Homo sapiens: one gene and its partner. The protein of the gene in region 1 interacts with the protein of each later gene in a biochemical or structural test. Each region holds a gene or a part of one and is shown on either strand. Other genes may lie near its edges. The genes, in order: CASP9 and NAIP.

Evidence for each region.
Region 2: the proteins of CASP9 (region 1) and NAIP interact in far-western blotting, tested with the Homo sapiens proteins (one study listed by BioGRID).

Annotation. Positions count from the first base shown.
Region 1 is NC_000001.11:15,505,668-15,515,976, forward strand, and holds part of CASP9 (caspase-9 isoform alpha precursor), read right to left. Parts: intron 2,241-10,309; coding exon 2,206-2,240; intron 1,467-2,205; exon of another isoform or gene 1,409-1,466; coding exon 1,232-1,408; intron 413-1,231; coding exon 323-412; intron 1-322. UniProt on the Homo sapiens protein: Involved in the activation cascade of caspases responsible for apoptosis execution. Binding of caspase-9 to Apaf-1 leads to activation of the protease which then cleaves and activates effector caspases caspase-3 (CASP3) or caspase-7 (CASP7).
Region 2 is NC_000005.10:71,007,161-71,017,469, forward strand, and holds part of NAIP (baculoviral IAP repeat-containing protein 1), read right to left. Parts: intron 5,759-10,309; 5' UTR 5,756-5,758; coding exon 5,188-5,755; intron 4,215-5,187; coding exon 4,115-4,214; intron 1-4,114. UniProt on the Homo sapiens protein: Anti-apoptotic protein which acts by inhibiting the activities of CASP3, CASP7 and CASP9. Can inhibit the autocleavage of pro-CASP9 and cleavage of pro-CASP3 by CASP9.

The DNA of each region.
Region 1 (10,309 bases):
AGACAGGAGCTGAGACAACATGTGTGCTGTACCCGCCTCTGAACAAACTCTGGGTGCAGGAGCTTCGTGAGCAGACCTGGTCTCTGCCCTCCCTCTCCCAGAGGGCTTCTCCCAGGAACACCGACCTGCCCAGGACGGTGCAGCCAACTCCTCAGAGGACCACATGGCTCCCAAGAAAACAACAGGAGGTGGGCAGGGCCCCACAGCCCTTTTCCACAAAGCCAAGGGTGTTTTGGACACAAGAAGGGACATGGCCCCTGCACAGCCTCTTGGCACGGCCAGTACCCAATGCCTGCCCAGGGAACAGTGGGAGGCTTCCTACCTGACAGCCGTGAGAGAGAATGACCACCACGCAGCAGTCCAGAGCACCGTGGTCCTGCTGCGCCAGCTCCAGCAAAGCCAGCACCATTTTCTACAAGAGAGGGCTGCAGGTGAGCCAGAAGCACGGATAGGTCTAGATGCAGACTGGACCGTTCCTAACAATAAAAGGGCCCAGCCTGGCCAGGCATGGTGGTTCACGCCTGTAATCCCAGCACTTTGGGAGGCCAAGGCAGGTGGATCATTTGAGGTCACGAGTTCGAGACCAGCCTGGCCAACATGGTGAAACCCCGTCTCTACTAAAAATACAAAAAAAAAAATTTAGCCAGGCATGGTGGCACACACCTGTAATCCCAGCTACTCAGGAGGCTGAGGCAGGAGAATTGCTTGAACCTGGGAGGTGGAGGTTGCAGTGAGCCGAGATCGCGCCACTGTACTCCAGCCTGGATGACAGAGTGGGACTCTGTGCCCCCGCCCCCCCCAAAAAATAAAACAACAAAGGGCCCAACCCAAACGCCTGGGCAGAGCACTTTCTCGGTTTCCCAGGGCCAGTACCGAAGTGCTGACAGTCCCAGCAGTCGTAATAGCCACCATTTTTGGGGAGAAGGTGCTACGCTTGGGCACTGTTCATCTAACCCCCAAAACAACCCAAGGAGGCAGGTACTATTCCTGCTTTCCAGACAAGGAAACTGAGGCACAGGAGGTCACACAGCAGGTGGCCGAGAGAGCCAGTCCTCAAACCCGGACTTCTGCGTCTGAACTTGAACCTGTAGCCGCTGGGCCGTCCTACCTCCCATGGTCCTCCAGATGTAAGGGCTCGCCTGGGGAGTCAGCTGGCTTTTGGAGTCCCTCAAAAGATACTTCCCCACCCACTGCCCCCCACCCTGTCTCCCTCCACAGATAGTGAGTGTACCTTGGCAGTCAGGTCGCCCTTCACCTCCACCATGAAATGCAGCGAGGAGAAGCGACGCCGCAACTTCTCACAGTCGATGTTGGAGCCAGTGCGGGTGCGGAGCCCGGACTCACGGCAGAAGTTCACATTGTTGATAATGAGGCAGTGGCCACAGGGCTCCATGCTCAGGATGTAAGCCTGCCAGCACAGGGACCCACGTAAACCCGGGCTCTCCCCACGCTCCCTAGAGGACAGTCTGGAGAGGCGGGAAGAAAACGGGGTCTGCCCTCTCGCACAAGGAGTAGCAGGGTCTCCACCCGGCATTCCAGGGCAAAAGAGAAGCAACTGCAGGGAAGACTAGCACTAGAAGGTGACCCCCCCATCTTGGTATTAAGGGAAGGGAGCTGGTAACCTGGAAATCCAACAGCCATGAGCATTCATCCCAAAGGACCTCACGGGTCACCTAGGCCGGGGTGTACCTGAGAACTCTGTCAGCAGAACCATGCCCAGGCCACCTGGAGGCACCCAAGGCTGCCCTCTCCCCAGGCTCAGTCCCCTTGTAATTCTCTCAAGGCAGCCTGTTCTTTTGTTGATGGTACTTATCACTATTTCTATTTATATACTCATTTGTCTAACTTCTCTCTCGCCTAACTGACTGATGGCTCCTTCCCAGGTGGCCCCAGCACAGAGCATGGGAGCCACACAATAAATACTTGTGAATGAGAGAGTGGCGACTTGGTCTGGATCCCGATGACTGCCCCTCATCAGGTCTGCCCTGCTTCTGCTGTCAGCTTTGCAGATGAGGAAGCGCAGAGATGAACAATCTGCCCCAGCAGGCGCTGGGCCGGAGTCAGGGAGGCTGAGACCAGACCCCCACTGCACTGCCTAGGGTTGGGTTCCCTGGGCTCCTGACACACCTGCAGGGAAGGACCTGAGGGGTGGGGAGGGAAGGGCCCAGAGCCCGAGCTACTGGCCCAAATTTCATGGAGACTCACCAAATCTGCATTTCCCCTCAAACTCTCAAGAGCACCTGAAGAGGCAGAGAAAGAGAGAAACATGAATGTTGGGTTACAGCAGAGGAGGGGCAAGGGGCTCTGTGAGGACAGCCCCCCAAGAACGGAGCAGCGAGAACTCAGACCCTCAGACTCTGCTGGTGGGAGAGCCACCTTGGAGATCTGTTTAGAGGTTTCTAACAAAGTTAAACACACACCTACCCTCTGACAGCAAGTCCACCCTTAGGTATATATCAAAGAGCAAGGAGTGCAAACGGGCACAAAAGACTTGGCCAAAATGTTCCCTGAGGCCTTATTCATCACGCCCCAACATGGAAACAACCAATCTAACAACAGTTTGGTAGATATACAAATTGTGATACAGCCACACAAGAGAACATTACACAGCCTAAAAAGGAATGAGCTACTGATGATACAGGAGACAGAAAGAAATTATTTAGGCAGATAGTGAGGGTAAAACAGTCCTCGGCAGAATTTCCCTTTTAACAAAATCCCCAAATCGTTTCTTTTCTTTTTTTTCTTTTTTCTTTTTCTTTTTTGAGACGGAGTTTCACTCTTGTCGCCCAGGCAGGAGTGCAATGGCACTATCTTGGCTCACTGCAAACTCTACCTCCCAGATTCAAGCAATTCTCCTGTCTCAGCCTCCCAAGTAGCTGGAATTACAGGCACCCACCACCATGCCCGGCTAATTTTTTTGTATTTTTAGTAGAGACGGGGTTTCACCATGTTGGCCAGGCTAGTCTCAAACTCTTGACCTCAGTTGATCCACCCACCTCAGCCTCCCAAAGTGTTGAGATTACAGGTGTGAGCCACTGCACCCAGCCTCAAATCATTTCTTTTCTAAAAAAGAGCAGCCTGAAAAATCAAGCTGCAGACATAGATAAGCAAGCTGGAAGCTCACAGGAGTGAATGCCAGCAGCTGTGCCAATAGAAAAGGGCTACCAGGGGGCCAGATATACTCAGCAAAGAGGCTCTATCTTCCCTTTTGTTACCACAAGACAGTAAAGAAGTAGGCAACATGGCACTGGCCAGGTAGAGAACCCATCTGCATAACACAAGATTGGAGTGGGGCTGGCCAGCTTTTCGCACCACATGCAAATGGCACACCTAGCCCTAACCAGTTTTATGCATCCTATGCAAATGAAACACCTGGTCTGACCAATCTTTGTGCCCTTTGTAAATCAGACACCATCTCCTCAGGCTCATCTTTAAAACCCCTTGCATTTCATTGCAGAAACAGCAACCCATTTCACTGGAACCCCTCTCTCTGCAGCAGACAGAGCTCTTCTCTTTCTTTCACCTATTATACTTCCACTCTGAACCTCACTGTATGTCCGTGTCCTAGTCTTCCGTGGCTGTGAAGACAATGAATCTTGGGTATTTACCCCAGACGAGTGACACCGCTTCACTGATACACGCAATGCGGGATAACCTTGAAAATGTGCTGCGTAAGGCCAGGTGCGGTGGCTCACGCCTATAATCCTGGCACTTTGGGAGGCAGATCACCTGAGGTCAGGAGTTCGAGACTAGCCTGGCCAACGTGGTGAAACCCCATCTGTACTAAAAATACAAAAAAAAAAAAAAAAAAAGAAAAATTAGCCAGGCGAGGGGGCAGGCGCCTGTAATCCCAGCTACTCGGGAGGCTGAGGCAGGAGAATCGCTTGAACCTGGGAGGCAGAGGTTGCAGTGAGTCGAGATCACGTCATTGCACTCCAGCCTGGGCAACAAGAGCAAAACTCCATCTCAAAAAAAAAAAAAAGAAAGAAAACGTGCTGCGTGAAAAAAGCCAGACACCAGAGAGTATAGAAATAGTGTGGTCTCATTGAGAAGAAATTCCAGAGCAGAAAGAGGTGAGAGAAGCTCAGGAGAGCGGATGCTCACTGTCTGCGAGTCCACAGGGGCCCAGCACACAGCAGGTCCTCAGGAAATACTTGCAGAATGAATAAATGAATAAAGATGATTATTTTCCATCAACATCAAAAGAGTTTTCATTTCCGTTAGCAAGAAGTTGACTGGCCACCAGCCTAAAAGGTTATGAGATGTTTTTTCTTTTTTTTTGAGACAGAGTCTCGCTCTGTCACCCAGGCTGGAGTGCAGTGGCGCGATCTTGCCTCGCTGCAACTTCTGCCTCCTGGGTTCAAGCGATTCTCCTGCCTCAGCCTCCCAAGTAGCTGGGAGTACAGGCACCTGCATCACGCTTGGCTAATTTTTGTATTTTTAGTAGAGATGGGGTTTCACCATGTTAGCCAGGCTGGTCTCGAACTCCTGACCTCAGGTGATCCACCTGCCTCACCCTCCCAAAGTGCTGGGATTACAGGCATGAGCCACCACGCCCGGCCTACATTTTTTCTTTTTTAAACAAGGAGAATACAGTGGCCACCTCCAAGTTGCAGTGGAGCCCATACTCCTGTTCCAATAACAGTGCCATTCCTTGCTTAGAACAGGTCTGAACTATTCTGCCAGCTTAAAGGCCACAGCAGAAAAGCACTCACATCCCATTCACATCCCATTTTTAAAGTTAGAAATGGTTTTACCTACCCTGAAAATTCCTATTCATCCACAGACTTCATTCTGAGAACATTTGCTCATTTCCAAAATTCCGCTGTACCCCAAAAATATAACTACTATCCACTACTGAGGAATTCACTCATTCCCCAAATTAGAAATATCTATTGATAAAGCAAAATGACTGCTCTCAAGAGGCCAAGGGCTACAGGTGCCCATGGAGGGAGCAAATCAACCAAGGGGTGCCCAAAGAAAGAGGGAGAGGAGACACTCCAGGCAGAGGCCCCGGCATGAGCAAAGGCAGGGAGGATGCAGGAGCATGGCATGTTCAGGGCCCCTCAAGTTGGGTGACATGGTCAGATACAAGGTGCATGAGACCAGTTTCTCCTGAAATGGCCACTCCCATGGGGACAATAAACACACATGGCTAAGTGTGTGCAAAAGAATCAGTCTTCCAGCCTGAGTCACTGGGCATGTGCCCAGGTCTCCAACACAAACAGAAGAGGGCAAGCACATCCTCTCTGCCACCCAAGGGAAAGAAGGGGTTTCGTCCCTCCGAACCTATGCTGGAATCACCCCAGAAGTGGCAGCAGAAGAGTTCCCACAAGGGAGTGCCCCAAACTGTCCTAAGATGGGGCCAGTTGGGATTCCAAAGAAAGAAGCAATAAATGCCAGGGCGATCTGGCCAAAGCAATCCTCGAGGTGCGGAGGCGAGAAAAAAAAACAGGTGTCTACCTAGGTTTGGTCCAAAGTGAAGAGGTCAGGGTAAGGAGTTTATATGAGGGTTTAAGGAATTTGGCTCAGGGCCAAGGCTGGTTTCTTTCAGTTGTTTTGGGTGATAACCTAGATACCTTTTTGTTTTGTTTTGTTTTTGGAGACGGAGTCTCACTCTCTTGTCCAGGCTGGAGTGCAGTGGTACAATCTCAACTCATTGCAAACTTTGCCTGCTGGGCTCAAGTGACCCTCCCTCCTAAGCCATCCAAGTAGCTAGGACTACACCACCACACCTAATTTTTTTTTTTTTTTCAGACAGAGTCCCGCTCTGTCGCCCAGGCTGGAGTACAATGGCACAATCTTGGCTCACTGCAACCTCTGTCTCCCAGGTTCAAACAATTCTCCTGCCTCAGCCTCCCAAGTAGCTGGGATTACAAGCACACACCACCACGCCCAGCTAATTTTTGCATTTTTAGTAGAGACAGGGTTTCATCATGTTGGCCAGGCTGGTCTCAAACTACTGGCCTCAAGTGATCCATCCGTCTTGGCCTCCCCAAGTGCTGGGATCACAGGCGTGAGCCACCATGCCCAGCCTACCTAGATACCTTTATCAATGCCTGAGAATGTTTAAGGCCCAGGTTTGGGCTCAGGTCTGCTGGGAAAAACCTGTAGCTGGCTGGGTCACAGGGTGGTCAAAGCACTCTGTGATTTTCAATCAGGACACAGAAAGAAACAGGGGAACTGGGGGACCCTACAGAAGGGAAGATGCCCTAGGACTGGCCCTCCCCAGCCCTTGGCAATTTAGAAATCACAGAAGGAAGCAGAGCTGACCAACAAGACCCAAGGCTCACTCAATAGGAGGCCCCATGTGAAGTCCCTCCACACACTGCCTCATTTACTCCTCAGAGCAGGCCCTTCAGCACAGAAGTACTGGCACACATCCCCATTTGCCAGAGGGGAATTGGGGGCTCAGAGACCCTGAGTTGTAATGGGAGGTGAGCACAGCCACCAGCCCCAGAGCAAAGAGACCAAGAAGCCAGGTAGGGCTGAAAAGCCAACTTCTACTTTCAAGGAAGTTCCAACCCAGGCAAGGCATGAGCAGAGAAAGCCACTGATGGTTGAGTTCACAGGTCAACTTGACTAGATCACAGGGTACCCAAATATTTGGTTAAATATAACAGTATTTCTCAGGGTGCCTGTGAGAGTGTTTTGGGGATGAGAATGGGATTTGAATAGGTAGACAGAGTAAAGCAGATGGCCCTCCCCAGGATGGTGGGCCGCGTCCAATCCGTCAAGGGCCTGAATAGAACGAAACAGTGGAGAATGGGAGAATTTGATCTCTCTCTGTCTCACTACTTGAGCTGGGACATCAGTCTTCTCCTGCCTTTGGAATGGGACTTCTACCATTGGTGCTCCTGGATCTCAGGCCTTCAGACTCAGACTGGAACTACACCACCAGCTTTCCTGGTCTCCAACTTGCAGATGGCAGATCTTGGAACTTCTCAGCGTCCATAATTGCATGAGCCTGTTCCTTGTAATAAATATGTTTTTAGATAAAGATATATATATATACACACACAAAAAAAATGCATATATCTTTCTATATATATCCGTGTGTGTATGTGTGTATATGTATATATATAAAACAGAGGCCCAGAGACTCAACTACTTGTCCACTGTGACACAGCTGCTAAGTGTTGGAGTTGGGCTTTGAACCAAGTACCTCGGACTCACTCCATCACTGCCTCATAAAGGACAAATGGCTTGGCCAGGTGCAGTGGCTCACGCCTGTAATCCCACCACTTTGGGAGGCTGAGGCGGACAGATCACGAGGTCAGGAGATCAAGACCATACTGGTTAACATGGTGAAACCCTGTCTCTACTAAAAAAAATACAAAAAAATTAGCTGGGCATGGTGGCAGGTGCCTGTAGTCCCAGATACTCGGGAGGCTGAGGCGAGAGAATGGCGTGAACCCAGGAGGCAGAGCTTGCAGTGTGCGGAGATCGCGCCACTGCACTCCAGCCTGGGCAACAGAACAAGACTCCGTCTCAAAAAAAAAAAAAAAAACGAACGGCTCATTCTCTTTCTTGTCTGTGTATATGTGCCATTAATCATTAGCTCATGCAAATGTTTACTAAGTACCTGCTGAGTTCTAGGTGTTGGGGATGCAGCATTGAACAAAAGATGCTGTTTTATACACATACACACACCCCCTATTGGTTCTCTTTCTCTGGAGAATCATGAGAACACAGCCACCAACAGTTCTCCCAGTCCTCCCGGGCAAGAGGCCCTGGCTGGAACAAGCAGTTACACACAAGGCATCACGTCTGAAACTAAGAAAGTTCCTTCCATTCTGAAGGAAAAGGCATTTTCCTTTGAATATACAAAGACAAAGCCACTCTCTCTGGTGGGTCCCCTAATGATGCACCTCTAAAGCACCGTGTTCAGCTTCATAGCACTACCCACAGCCGTGAATAAAGACCAAATTAGGCAAGCATGAACTGAGTACCTGCCCCTCTCCACCTGAAGGCAAGGACTGGGCATCCTTGTTCGAAGCTGCATCCCCAACACCTAGAACCCAACAGGTACTTAGTAAACATTTGTGTGAGCTAATGAGTAATGGCACAAATATAGGGACAAGAAAGAGAATGAGCCATTTGTTCTTCATGAGACAGTGATGGAGTGAGTCTGAGGTACTTGGGTTCAAATCCCAACTCCAACACTTAGCACCTGTGTCACAATGGGCAAGGAGCTCAGAGTCTCTGGGCTTCTGATTTCCCCATCTGTATTACAGGATAATAGGAGCAACTACCAACCTCATAGGATTGTGATGACACCTCAAACAATTAATACATGTGAGGCACATAGAACAATACCCGACACACTTGACAACTCAATAAAACTGATGTGTCCACATTATTATTCATTGACACTCATGCTCAATGAATATGTATGAGTGCAGTGTGTGTACTCAGCCCCACCACACTAACCCTTTGGGCCAGATTCTTCTTTATTGTGCAGAGCTACTCTGTACACTGTTGGGTTTTGGCAGCATCTCTGTCTACCCACTAGATGCCAGTAGCACCCACCCACCCTCAGCTATAACAACCAGATTTGTCTCTAGACATTGTCAAATGTCCCTTGGAGGTCGGGGAAAAATCGTCCCCAGTGTGAAACACTGACCTACAGCATCCTTTCCTGTATTCACTTATTAAAGGCTCTGCTGCTGGCCCTATTCTTGCTCAGCCAGACCTTCCCATACATATGAATACACAGCTCTTCCTTTGTGGGTCACCATGAAACCTACCTTGGGAAACATTCCCATGCAGTACTCTGGAGTCTAAGGCCCAGCATCTAAAAAGGACATCTCTCAGCAGCTCATGGAAAATGGGACAGTCGCTCTATTAAGCCAGAAGACCTAGGCCCAAGTCCTAGCTCTGTACTGGAACTCACTTTGTGACTGTTGCTCTCAGAACCCAGTTTCCTCCCCTGTAAGTAGCATATAATGACAGACGGGCTTGCCATGTCTACCACGGCACAGGGTGGTTTTGATGACCTGAAAAAACACTGTGTATACTACAAAGTGATATTCACATTATTTAAAGTGATCTTGGGCCAGCCGTGCTGGCTCATACCTATAATCCCAGCACTTTGGGAGGCTGAGGCGGGTTTATCACTTGAGGTCAGGAGTTCAAGACCAGCCTGGCCAACATGGGGAAACCTTGTCTCTATCAAAAAATACAAAAACTAGCCAGGCATGGTGGTGCACCTGTAGTCCCAGCTACTTGGGAGGCTGAGGTGAGAGAATTGTTTGAACCTGGGAGGCAGAGGTTGCAGTGAGCCGAAAACACACCACCGCACTCCACCCTGGGTGACAGAGTAAGACCCTATCTCAAAAAATAATAATAATAAAGTAAAAAAAATTAAGTGATCTTACTATTGCTGTTGTTATTTACCCTTCAGAATTAAGCTCCTACTAGGAATAAATATTCACAAGAAACAGGAAATAAAACACCTTCCAAAAAAACAGGAAGTTTCAAATTCTGACTGTTGGTCCTAAATGACTCACGTTGACATTTCCCAGAACCAAATAACAACAGATGAGCTTTGTATTCTGCCTGCCTCCTTTACAGGATGGTAATGCACATGGCCAATTCCAGAACCAGTCTTCTTCCTTACACTTCAAGCAAATGCAGCTTCCTACCCTTATCATGTTTGTCTGTTTCTCTGCTTTAGTGGATTGCCCAAAAATCACCATTATGCAGCAAGTACTCAATAATGTTCACCATTACTATTATGAATATTAACTCTGATACCATGCAATGGTCCACCAGGCACCCATGAAACAGGAAGTGCTAGAGCTCCACACGCTGCCATGGGAACAAAGCCCCAACTGAAAACAACCCACATGTCCATCAATAGGAAAATGGTTAAATAAATTGTGGATTATTCAGAACAGGAACTGCTGCCATCTAGAAATTAAAAAGAATGAACTACTGATATGCACAACAATATGAATGAGTTTTGGTGAATTTTTGTTGAAAGAAAACAGCACTTTTTACCCATCACACAGGAAAAAATGTCAATATTCACTGTTGGCAAGAATGTGGGAAAGTGGTCACCTTCACTCGCAGTTGGTGAGATTATAAAATGACACAATTTGGGCCGAGTGCAGTGGCTCACACCTGTAATTCCAGCACTTTGGGAGGCCGAGGTGGGCAGACTACTGGAGCACAGGAGTTTGAGGGCAGCCTGGGCAACACGGTAAGACCCTATCTCTACAAAAAATTTTAAAATTGGCCAGGCATGGGCTGGGAGTGGTGGCTCACACCTTTAATCCCAGCACTTTGGGAGGCTGAGGCAGGT
Region 2 (10,309 bases), on another chromosome or scaffold:
ACGAGCAGCGGCTTGTGCTCCAGCCGGGGCTGCTGTTCCCTGTTACATATGCATATATGGTGCACTGTCAGCATGGACAAGGACTGCCTGGGTGGCTGTTTTGATTCGTCAGGGAGCCAGAGTGACTGTCAAATGATTTCACAATTCTAGCTTCATTCGTCCCTATAACTATCTCATCTACTTGTCTAACTTTCTCTCTCTCCTCTTCCTGCCTTTCTCCTCTCCTCCCTTGTTTACTTCCTCCCTCCTAATCTCCTCACTTTCTTTTCAACTATGAAAGTAATATATACTTGTTTCCAAAAATTTAAACAAGACAGCAATGAACAAAATAAATGTGAAAATCCATCACTACTTCACCCCCTGACAAATCCAGATCCAGAAGTATCTACAGTTTGGTTTACATATTTTCATAAGGTTTTCTATATATTTTCAAGCAACTCCATATATAGTTTGAGTGGTTTTAAACATTTTCAAAGTCTCACACTGCACTTATTGTGCATATTGCTTTCCCACACAACGTATCAAAACATATCAAAGATATCCATTCACTTTTTTTTTCTTTTGAGATGGAGTCTCACTCTGTTGCCCAGGCTGCTGTGCAGTGGAGTGATCTTGGCTCACTGCAACCTCCGCCTCCCAGGTTCAAGCAATTTCTTGCCTCAGCCTCCCGAGTAGCTGGAACCATAGGCACGCACCACCACGCTCGGCTCATTTTTGTATTTTTAGTAGAGATGGGGTTTCACCATGTTGGCCAGGGAAGAGGGGAGATAGGAGAGGAGAGAGGAGAGAGGGAAGAGGGGAGAGGAGAGTTCATCACTTGAATGAACTCCTGGCCTCAAGTGATTTGCCCGCCTTGGCCTCCCAAAGTGCTGGGATCACAGGTGTGAGCCACTGTGCCCAGCCTTTTTTTTTTTTTTTTTTTTTTTTGAGATGGAGTCTCGCTGTGTTGACCAGGCTGGAGTGCAGTGGTGCGATCTCAGCTCACTGCAACCTCTGCCTCCCGGGCTCAAGCAATTCTCCTGCCTCAGCCTCCCAAGTAGCTGGGGTTACAGGTGCCTGCCACCACGCCTGGCCAATTTTTGTATTTTTAATAGAGACAGGGTTTTACCATGTTAGCCAGGCTGGTCTTGAACTACTGACATCAAATGATCCGCCTACCTTAGCCTCCCAAAGTGCTGGGATTACAGGCATGAGCCACCATGCCGGGCCTCCATTCACTTTTGTGGGCATGGCTGTCCATGTGCAAGATGACTTATAAATGTAAATAACTGTGTCCAGTTTTGTAGTTAATTTAGTATCCAACCAACAACTTTGCATGTAGTAGGTGTGTGACAAATATTTGTTAAAGAAAATAGAATCTGAGGCTGGGCACGGTGGCTCATGCCTATAATCCCAGCACTTTGGGAGGCCGAGGCAGGTGGACTGCCTGAAGTCAGGAGTTCGAGACCAGCCTCGCAAATATGGAGAAACCCCGTCTCTACTAAAAATACAAAAACTAGTCAGGTGTGGCAGTGCGCACCTATAATCCCAGACCTGGGTGGGGTGAGGCAGGAGAATCGCTTGAACCCAGGAGGCAGAGGTTGCAGTGAGCCAAGATTGCACCGCTGCACTCAAGCCTGGGCAACAGAGTGAGACTGTCACAAAAAAAAAAAAAAAAAAGAAAGAAAGAAAGAAAATAGAATCTGAGCCTGACCAAACTGCTAGATCCAAGTGTCAGGTTCCTGGAAATGCAGAAGGTAGAGGAACATGTTAGACTATGCCAGAGGAACACATTCTGCCAAATCTAGAGTAGAGGGAATTTTACAGGACAGATTACATGGCTTCTTTAACAAATAAGTGACAAGAAAAAAGAGATGGATAAAGAGGAAATCTACGAATTAAAAATCTTAAGGGGCTGAGCACAGTGGCTCATGCCTGTAATCCCAGCACTTTGGGAGGCTGAGGTGGGAGGATCACTTGAGCCCAGGAGTTTGTAGAACCAGGAGTTCCAGACCAGCCTGGGCAACAAAGTGAAACCTTGTCGCTATAAAAGATATGAAAATTAGCTGGGCATGGTGGTAGGCACCTGTGGTCCCAGCTACTCAGGACGCTGAGGTGGGAGGATTGCTTGAGTCTGAGAGGTGGAGGTTGCAGTGAGCTGAGATTGCACCACTAAACTCCAGTCTGGGCTCCAGTCTGGGCAACAGAGCAAAACTCACTCTCAAAAAAAAAAAAAAAAGAAAAGAAAGAAAGAAAACAACAAATCTTGGTCAGGCACAGGTGGCTCATGCTTGTAATCCTAGCACTTTGGGAATCCAAGGTGGGTGGATCACTTGAGGCCAGGAATTTCAGACCAGCCTGGGCAACATGATGAAACCGCATCTCTACTAAAATTACAAAAATTAGCCAGGTGTGGTGGTGCATGCCTGTAATCTCAGTTACTCGGAGGCTGAGGCACAAGAATCACTTGTACCTGAGAGGTGGAGGTTGCAGTGAGCCAAGATCGTACCACTGGGCAACAGGGCGAGACTCTGTCTCAAATAAAATAAAATAAAAATATAGTTATTGTTATTATTTCCAGGAAAAAAGGTGGGTAGGAGATGGATGAAATATGATTTGGCTATGTGTTGACAAGTATTTATTACACTATTCTATCTTTGTATGAAATTTTACACAGTGAAAGTTTAAAAACTTGTTAAAGGAATGAATCTGTACTTGGTAGAAACAAAGAAAGTCATGTAGAAAATACTAGTAAATATAGCATTAAAAATAATTAAAATGTACTTCCTTTTCTAAGCCAGGAACTAAAGACCACTGCAGTAATAAAAACTCTTTCTGAGGTTTAAAAATACAGTGTTTTCATTTGGTATATATTTAGCAGTACATGAAACCATTTGTAATAATGTTTAAATATTTTTTACCTTCCAGCATACACCATTTTACACCACCCCTATGGAAATTATTATTACTTATTTAATTAGTTTTAGAGACAGGGTCTCACTCTGTCACCCAGGCTGGAGCACAGTGGCTTGATCACGGCTCAATGCAGCCTTGACTACCTGGGCTCTAGCAATCTTCCTGCCTCAGCCTCGCAAGTAGCTAGGACTGCAGGTACACGCCACCATGCCTGGCTAACTTTTTTTTTTTGAGACGGAGTCTCACTCTGTCGCCCAGGCCGGAGTGCAGTGGCGCTATCTCGGCTCACTGCAAGCTCTGCCTCCCGGGTTCACACCATTCTTCTGCCTCAGCCTCCCAAGTAGCTGGGACTACAGGCACCCGCCACCGTTCCCGGCTAATTTTTTGTATTTTTAGTAGAGACATGGTTTCACCGTGTTAGCCAGGATGGTCTTGATTTCCTGACCTCGGATCCACCGGCCTCAGCCTCCCAAAGTGCTGGGATTACAGGTGTGAGCCACCGCGCCTGGCCAATTTTTTTTATTTTTGTAGAAACAGGGTCTCTACATGCCAGGCTGGTCTCAAACTCCTGATTTCAAGCAATCCTCCTGCCTTGGCCTCCCAAAGTGCTGGGGTTACAGGTGTGGGCCACCACTTCCAGCCTTATTTATTAATTAAGGCAGATCATGAAACTTCTACTGGGCAAAACCTATCTTAGAATTTGGGATAATGAAATACTTAAAAACTGTTTAAAATTCTATAATTCAAACTTTTCACAATGTAATTAGGCCTTTCCTGCTTGAATAAATCCTGGAGTGGTCCAATTTTGAATAGGGAAAGATCAAAACTGAAGGTGCTACTCCAGAAAGGTGGCTCTTTTGTCTTTCATTTTGTCTTTTAAAGAACTGAAAAATTTAGCCAGGCACAGTGGCTCACGCCTGTAATCCTAGCACTTCGGGAGGCCTAGGTGGGTGGACTGCCTGAGCTCAGGAGCTCAAGACCAGCCTGGGCAACATGGCAAAACCCCATCTCTGCTAAAAATACAAACATTAGCCCATCTTGGTGGTGCACACCTATAATCCCAGCTACTCAGAAGGCTGAGGCAGGAGAATCACCTGAACCAGGGAGGGAGAATTTGCACCGAGCTGAAGTCATGCCACTATACTCCAGCCTGGGTGGCAGAGCAAGACTGTCTCAAAAAAAAAAGAAAGAAACATTTAAGCAAAAATTATCTACTTACTTGGGGAACCATTTGGCATGTTCCTTCCAAGGATCATCTCCTTCTTCCCAATTTCCTAAACATCCACCACAGGAAAAACACTGTACCGTGTCCTGTTTACCTATATATGAAGGAAAATATTTAGATTGCCTGGCAGTGGCACCAGGGGGTATGTACACAGAGTTGATTGTTTTGTTCAGGAGCAAGACAAGCTCCAGCGTGGCTGTGCACTCCCGATCTCATTGGCCTGAGTCTCCATCCTCAATCCCACCACCCAAAATGGGCCCCTCCACCACAGCCGTGCTCTAGGTACAGAACCCTAAGCTGTGTAACTCAATATCCTGCCCCAGCTGCCCCCCAGAGCTGGTATGTTGCTCTTTGAGTTCTCAGGGTCAAAGTGATAGGGAAGCCGACTAACACCAGGACCAGCTGAAGTAACGTGCAATTAGAAAACCTACGTTTTAGCCTTGCCATGACATTTCGGTAGAAACATAGGCATGTTTCTTAAAGTCTCTGAGCCTCCATGAACTCAGCTGTGAAATGGGAGAGAAAGGGGTAAATTCATTGGATAAGAATTAGTACTCACTCTATGCCTAGCATAAAGTAGGTACAGTACTCAGTAAATGATCGTTGTTATTGTTAGAACTCTGATTTATATATCATAACCCCTATGGCGGGGCTAGGACAAACAAACAAAACCCTCCAATACTGCAGCAATGAGAAGAATCAAAGAAAGATCATGTAAGAGCAGTAGAAGGAGGGTGGGTGAGGAGACTGGGATCAGGATGACCGCATGAGTTATTTAATCTTTTCAGGACCTTAAGAATACAGCCAGTATTTTCTAAGGTCCAAGTTTAAGGAGACGTAACTTTCTTATTTTATATATATTTGACAAATTAACACAGGCTGTACTAAATAGAAAATGAAGCAAAAATAAAAATATTGATGTTGAATTTTAATAAACTAGACCTTATACCTAATATAACACATTTAACCAGTGAAGAAAGTTTAGCAAAATATTGCAAAAGCAATTGAAAAATAAAACCTAAACTTAAAACGCCAGAGAAACACTTCAGAGAATAATTTCAAGGTACCTGTAAAGACAAAGCCAGCCTCTGAGAGCACACAAGGGGATATCCCTTGGACATAAAATGGCCAGTTCCTGAAGGACGCAAGTCTAGCCTCCTCTTCTTGGTACCTCATTTTACCTCCTCTCAGCCTGCTCTTCAGATTCTTCACCCTTATGTCGTACTTGGCAATGTTACCAACATCCTTGTTCAAAAGGAACCCACAATCTGGATGAAACCTCTTGTGGTCTTCTATGGGGAGTCTCGTGAGGCCGGCACCAAAGAGGATTAGGCTACAGCAGAAGCACTGAATCCCAGATTTTACCCCAGTGAAGTAAAACCCAGCGGCCGCCATCTCCTGTGGTATCCATGAGCTGTACGGCTCATAAGTCACAAAAGTCTTTAACCTTTTTGCTTCACTGCGCATTTGAGAGTTGTAGCCTTTCTGCATTTTTGCTCGCTCCTTCTGCTCCTCTTCTTCTAGTTCCTTTGCCAACTGAACTGCATCTAGGCCCAGAAGAGCAGACAGCTCTGGCAGCAAATTGTGATCAAACTGGGAGATCCTCTCGTCAGAGGCTTTCTGCTGGGTGGCCATTTTCTGAAAAGGAAAATAAAGCAGGTTGATCCCTTATAGTAAGATTTTTCTTAGAAGAGCATTTCCCACTGTTTCCGAAGAAACCAGGAATTAAAGGAATGCCTGGAATTTCAACACAAAAGATAAATTGTTGGAAAATTATGAAACATCAGTATTCATCTACTTAATCAACAAATATTTACTAAGCACCTACTATATATCAGGTACAGTGCTAGACATTGGGGATCTAGCAACCAACAAGACAGACACCCATCTGCCTCCATTCATGAAGCTTTCCAGATATCAGTTATGGACACAATGTGGTAACATGAGCATATACTGAACATTTATATTAAAGAAAAACATAGACAAAATTGTATAGCCTGGCAGCAACAATTTGATCGAATTACTCAGTTTTAAAAAATCATTATTTTGTGTTCATGTTTTAAGTCTCGGTGCTCTGGCCGGGCGCGGTGGCTCACGCCTGTAATCCCAGCACTTTGGGAGGCCGAGGCAGGTGGATCACGAGGTCAGGAGATGGAGAACATCCTGGCTAACAAGGTGAAACCCCATCTCTACTAAAACTACAAAAAAAATTAGCCGGGCGTGGTGGCGGGCGCCTGTAGTCCCAGCTACTCGGGAGGCTGAGGCAGGAGAATGGCGTGAACCCAGGAGGTGGAGCTTGCAGCGAGCCGAGATCGCGCCACGGTACTCCAGCCTGGGTGACAGAGCAAGACTCCGTCTTAAAAAAAAAAAAAAAAAAAAGAAGCTCAGTAACAGGCCAATGACTGTTTTTCAAAGGACATATACCTGCCAGAAGCCTCGGGTAACTTTCTAGTGTCAAATCCCCATGACCATCCCTGAGGGGCAGTCACGGGCTTTGGTAAGAAGCTCCATCAGCGTGAGTCGGTTGCTGACATTGCTAACATCATTTGAACACTGAGGTGCTATGGCCCCAAAGTAATCTCTTCGAAGTTCCCAAAAAGTCTCCCATTTGTTCATTTTTCAAAGCCCCATGTAAATTAGCTCCCCATTCCCTCTTAACTTCGAGAATAAGGGTTGATAAAATTCCCAAACATGGTATGTGATTTCTCCAGGAACCAAGAAATTGAACTAATTTTCGTGCCTTTTTCCTCTGTCTTGTAGCTAGCAACTTAATTTTGGTTGTTTGGGAATGTTTCTAGTGGCTCTAGCCCAAGTAATTCCTCCTTTTTTTTTTTTTTTAGACAGTCTCACTCTGTCACCCAGGCTGGAGTGCAGTGGCGTGGCCTCGGCTCACTGCAACCTCCGCCTCCTGGGTTCAAGCAATTCTCCTGCCTCAGCCTCCTGAGTAGCTGGGATTACAGGCACGTGCCACCAATTGCGGCTAATTTCTGTATTTTTAGTAGACACAAGGTTTTGCCATGTTGGCCAGCTTGGTCTCCAACTCCTGACCTCAAGTGATCCGCCTGCCTTGGCTTCCCACTCTTGTCCTTGTCGCCCAGGCTGAAGTGCAGTGGCGCAATCTCAGCTCCCACACCGGGATTACAGACGTGAGCCACCACACCCAGCCTAGCCCAAGTAATTTCTAAGAATTTTACCATTTATTCTAAGCCTTGCATTTTAGCCAGTTAATCATCCCTCCCTGGTGGTTATATGATTAACAAGCACTTCCAATTCAGTCTTAGCTGGATATTTGGATTGAGAGATTAACATTATTATCATCAATATAATAAGACATAGTATTAGCTGGGCGCAGTGGCTCATGCCTGTAATCCCAGCACTTTGGGAGGCTGAGGCGGGCAGATCACCTGAGGTCAGGAGTTCAAGACCAGCCTGGCCCACATGGTGAAACCCCATCTCTACAAAAATAAAAAAAATTAGCCGGGCATGATGGTGGGTGCCTGTAATCCCAGCTACTCAGGAGGCTGAGGCGGGAGAATCAGTTGAACCTGGGAGGCAGAGGTTGCAGTGAGCCAAGATCTCGCCATTGCACTCCAGCCTGGGTGACAGAGTGAGACTCCATCTCAAACAAACAAAAAAAAGATATAGTATTTTCCAGTGCAATCAAATCTAAGTTGTTCCTCATTAGGTTGTAGCAATAAGCAAGATAATTTAAATGTCCTGTGGGAGCAGCTTAAATGTGCATTGGTGGCCTTTCCACACAAATGCAAATTGATTATGATTTTCTCCTGAAATAGGAATCAAAAAGAAAGTAAGTGGCCAAGTGTGGAGGCTCACACCTGTAATCCCAGCATTTTGGGAGGCCAAGGTGGGAGGATTGTTTGTGGCTAGGAGTTTGAGGCCAGTTTAGGCAACTTAGTGAGATCCTTGTCTCTACAAAAAATTTTAAAAATTAGCCAGATGTGTTGGCACATGCCTGTAGTCCCAGCTACTCGGGGAGCAGAGGCAGAAGGATCACTTGAGCCCAAGAATTCAAGGTTACAGTGAGCCACAATTATGCCACTCACTGTACATTTCATGAAATCTCTTTCCTCAACAGCATCCCCATTCAGATGTCACATCCATTCCGATAATATATCAGGGAGAGATGATAACAATTATGCAATTATATTGCATAATTGAATTATATTGAAATATAATCCATCGGGAGCAGTGGCTCATGCCTGTAATCTCAGCACTTTAGGAGGCCGAGGTGGGTGGATCACCTGAGGTCAGGAGTTTGAGACCAGCCTGGCCAACATGGCAAAACCCCATCTCTACTAAAAATACAAAAAAAAAAAAAAAAAGAAATTAGTCAGGTGTGGTGGCACGTGCTTGTAGTCCCAGCTAGTTGGGGCTGGCTGTGGTGGCTTACACCTATAATCCCAGCACTTTGGGGGGCTGAGGCCAGGAGTTCAAGACTAGCCTTGCCAACATGGTGAAACCCCATCTCTACTAATAATACAAAAAAAATAGCTGGGCATGGTGGCGCATGCCTATAATCTCAGCTACTCGGGAGGCTGAGGCAGGAGAATTGCTTGAACCCACGAGGCAGAGGTTGCAGTGAGCCGAGATCGCACCACTGCACTCCAGCCTAGGCGACAAGAGTGAAACTCCATCTCAAAAAAAGAGAAAGAAATATAATTCACACATCATAAAATTCACCCATTTAAAATGAACAACTGAGGGTGCGGTGACTCATACCTATAACCCCAATGCTCTTGAGGCCAAGGCGGGAGGATTGCTTGAGACCAGGAGTTGAGATCAGCCTGGGCAACATAGCTAGACCCTGTCTCTAAAAAAACTTTTTTTTTAAGAAAACGAAAACTTAGCGGGGCATGGTGGCATGTGCCTGTAGTCCTAACTACGTGGGAGGCTGAGGTGGAAGGATCTCTTGAGCCCAGGAATATGAAGCTGCGGGGAGCTATGATTGCAGTACTATACTCCAGCCTGGACAACAGAGTGAGGCTCTGTCTCTAAAAAAAGTAAATAAAATGTACAGTTCAATAAATATCAGCATATTCATAAACATGCACAACCACCACCACAATCAATTTTAGAACATTTTCATCCCCCCAGAAAGAAACGCTGTGCCCATTAGCAGTTGCTTTCCATGTCCCCCATTACCCTCCTAGCCCTAGGCAACTACTATGTTACTTTCTGTCTCTATAGATTTGCCTACTGGGGACATTTCATTTAAATTGAATCATACAGTACGTGGTCCTTTGTGTCTGGTTGCTTTCACTTTGCAAAATGTTCATGTTGGTAGAGGTGCTTAAAAAATAAAATAAAAAGAACAACAAAAAAAGGAAGCGAAATTCATCCATGTTGTATTGTTTTAGTACTTCATATTCCTTTTCATTGTCAAATAATATTTCATTATGTGGATATACCACACTTTATTATCACATATACCATATTTTATTCCTCAACCCAGTTGATGGATGTGTGGATTGTTTACGCTTTTTGGCTATTATAAATAATACCGCTGTGCACATTAGTGTGCAAGTTTTTATATGGACATTTTTCACTTTTTTTTTTTCTTGAGACAGGGTCTTGCTCTGTCACCTAGGCTGGAGTGCAGTGGCTTGATCACCATCCATTGCAGCCTCAACCTCAAGGGCTGAAGCGATCCTCCCACCTCAGCTTCCCAAGCAGCTCGTACGACAGGAGCACACCACCATTTTTTATAGAGACAAGCGTGTTGGGGGTGTTGGTGGGGGGGGTCTCACTATGTTGCCAAGTTGGTCTCAAACCCCTGGGCTCAAGTGATCCTCCCACCTCAGCCTCCTAAAGTGCTGGGATTACAGGCCTGAGCCACCACACCTGGCCCATTTTTCACTCTTAAACTTACAGTTGTATTGTCATACTAAACTAAGTTAATTGCTGTTTAATTTTTTATTAGCAGGTATAACAATACATTATGCACCATGGTCCAACAATGACAATAAAGTTTTTCACCACTCCGGGCATTTTATCCACACCAATGTAAATGTCCTTGGGTCCCATAGCACCAAGAGACTCTGCCACCCTTTTCTTTACATCACACTGCTTTAAAGTGACTGTAGATTCTGCTTTTGCATCATCCTAAAGGTTTATTTGTTTAATTCATCAAGACTAGGATACATTAGAAATCTTGACTGGGCACAGTGG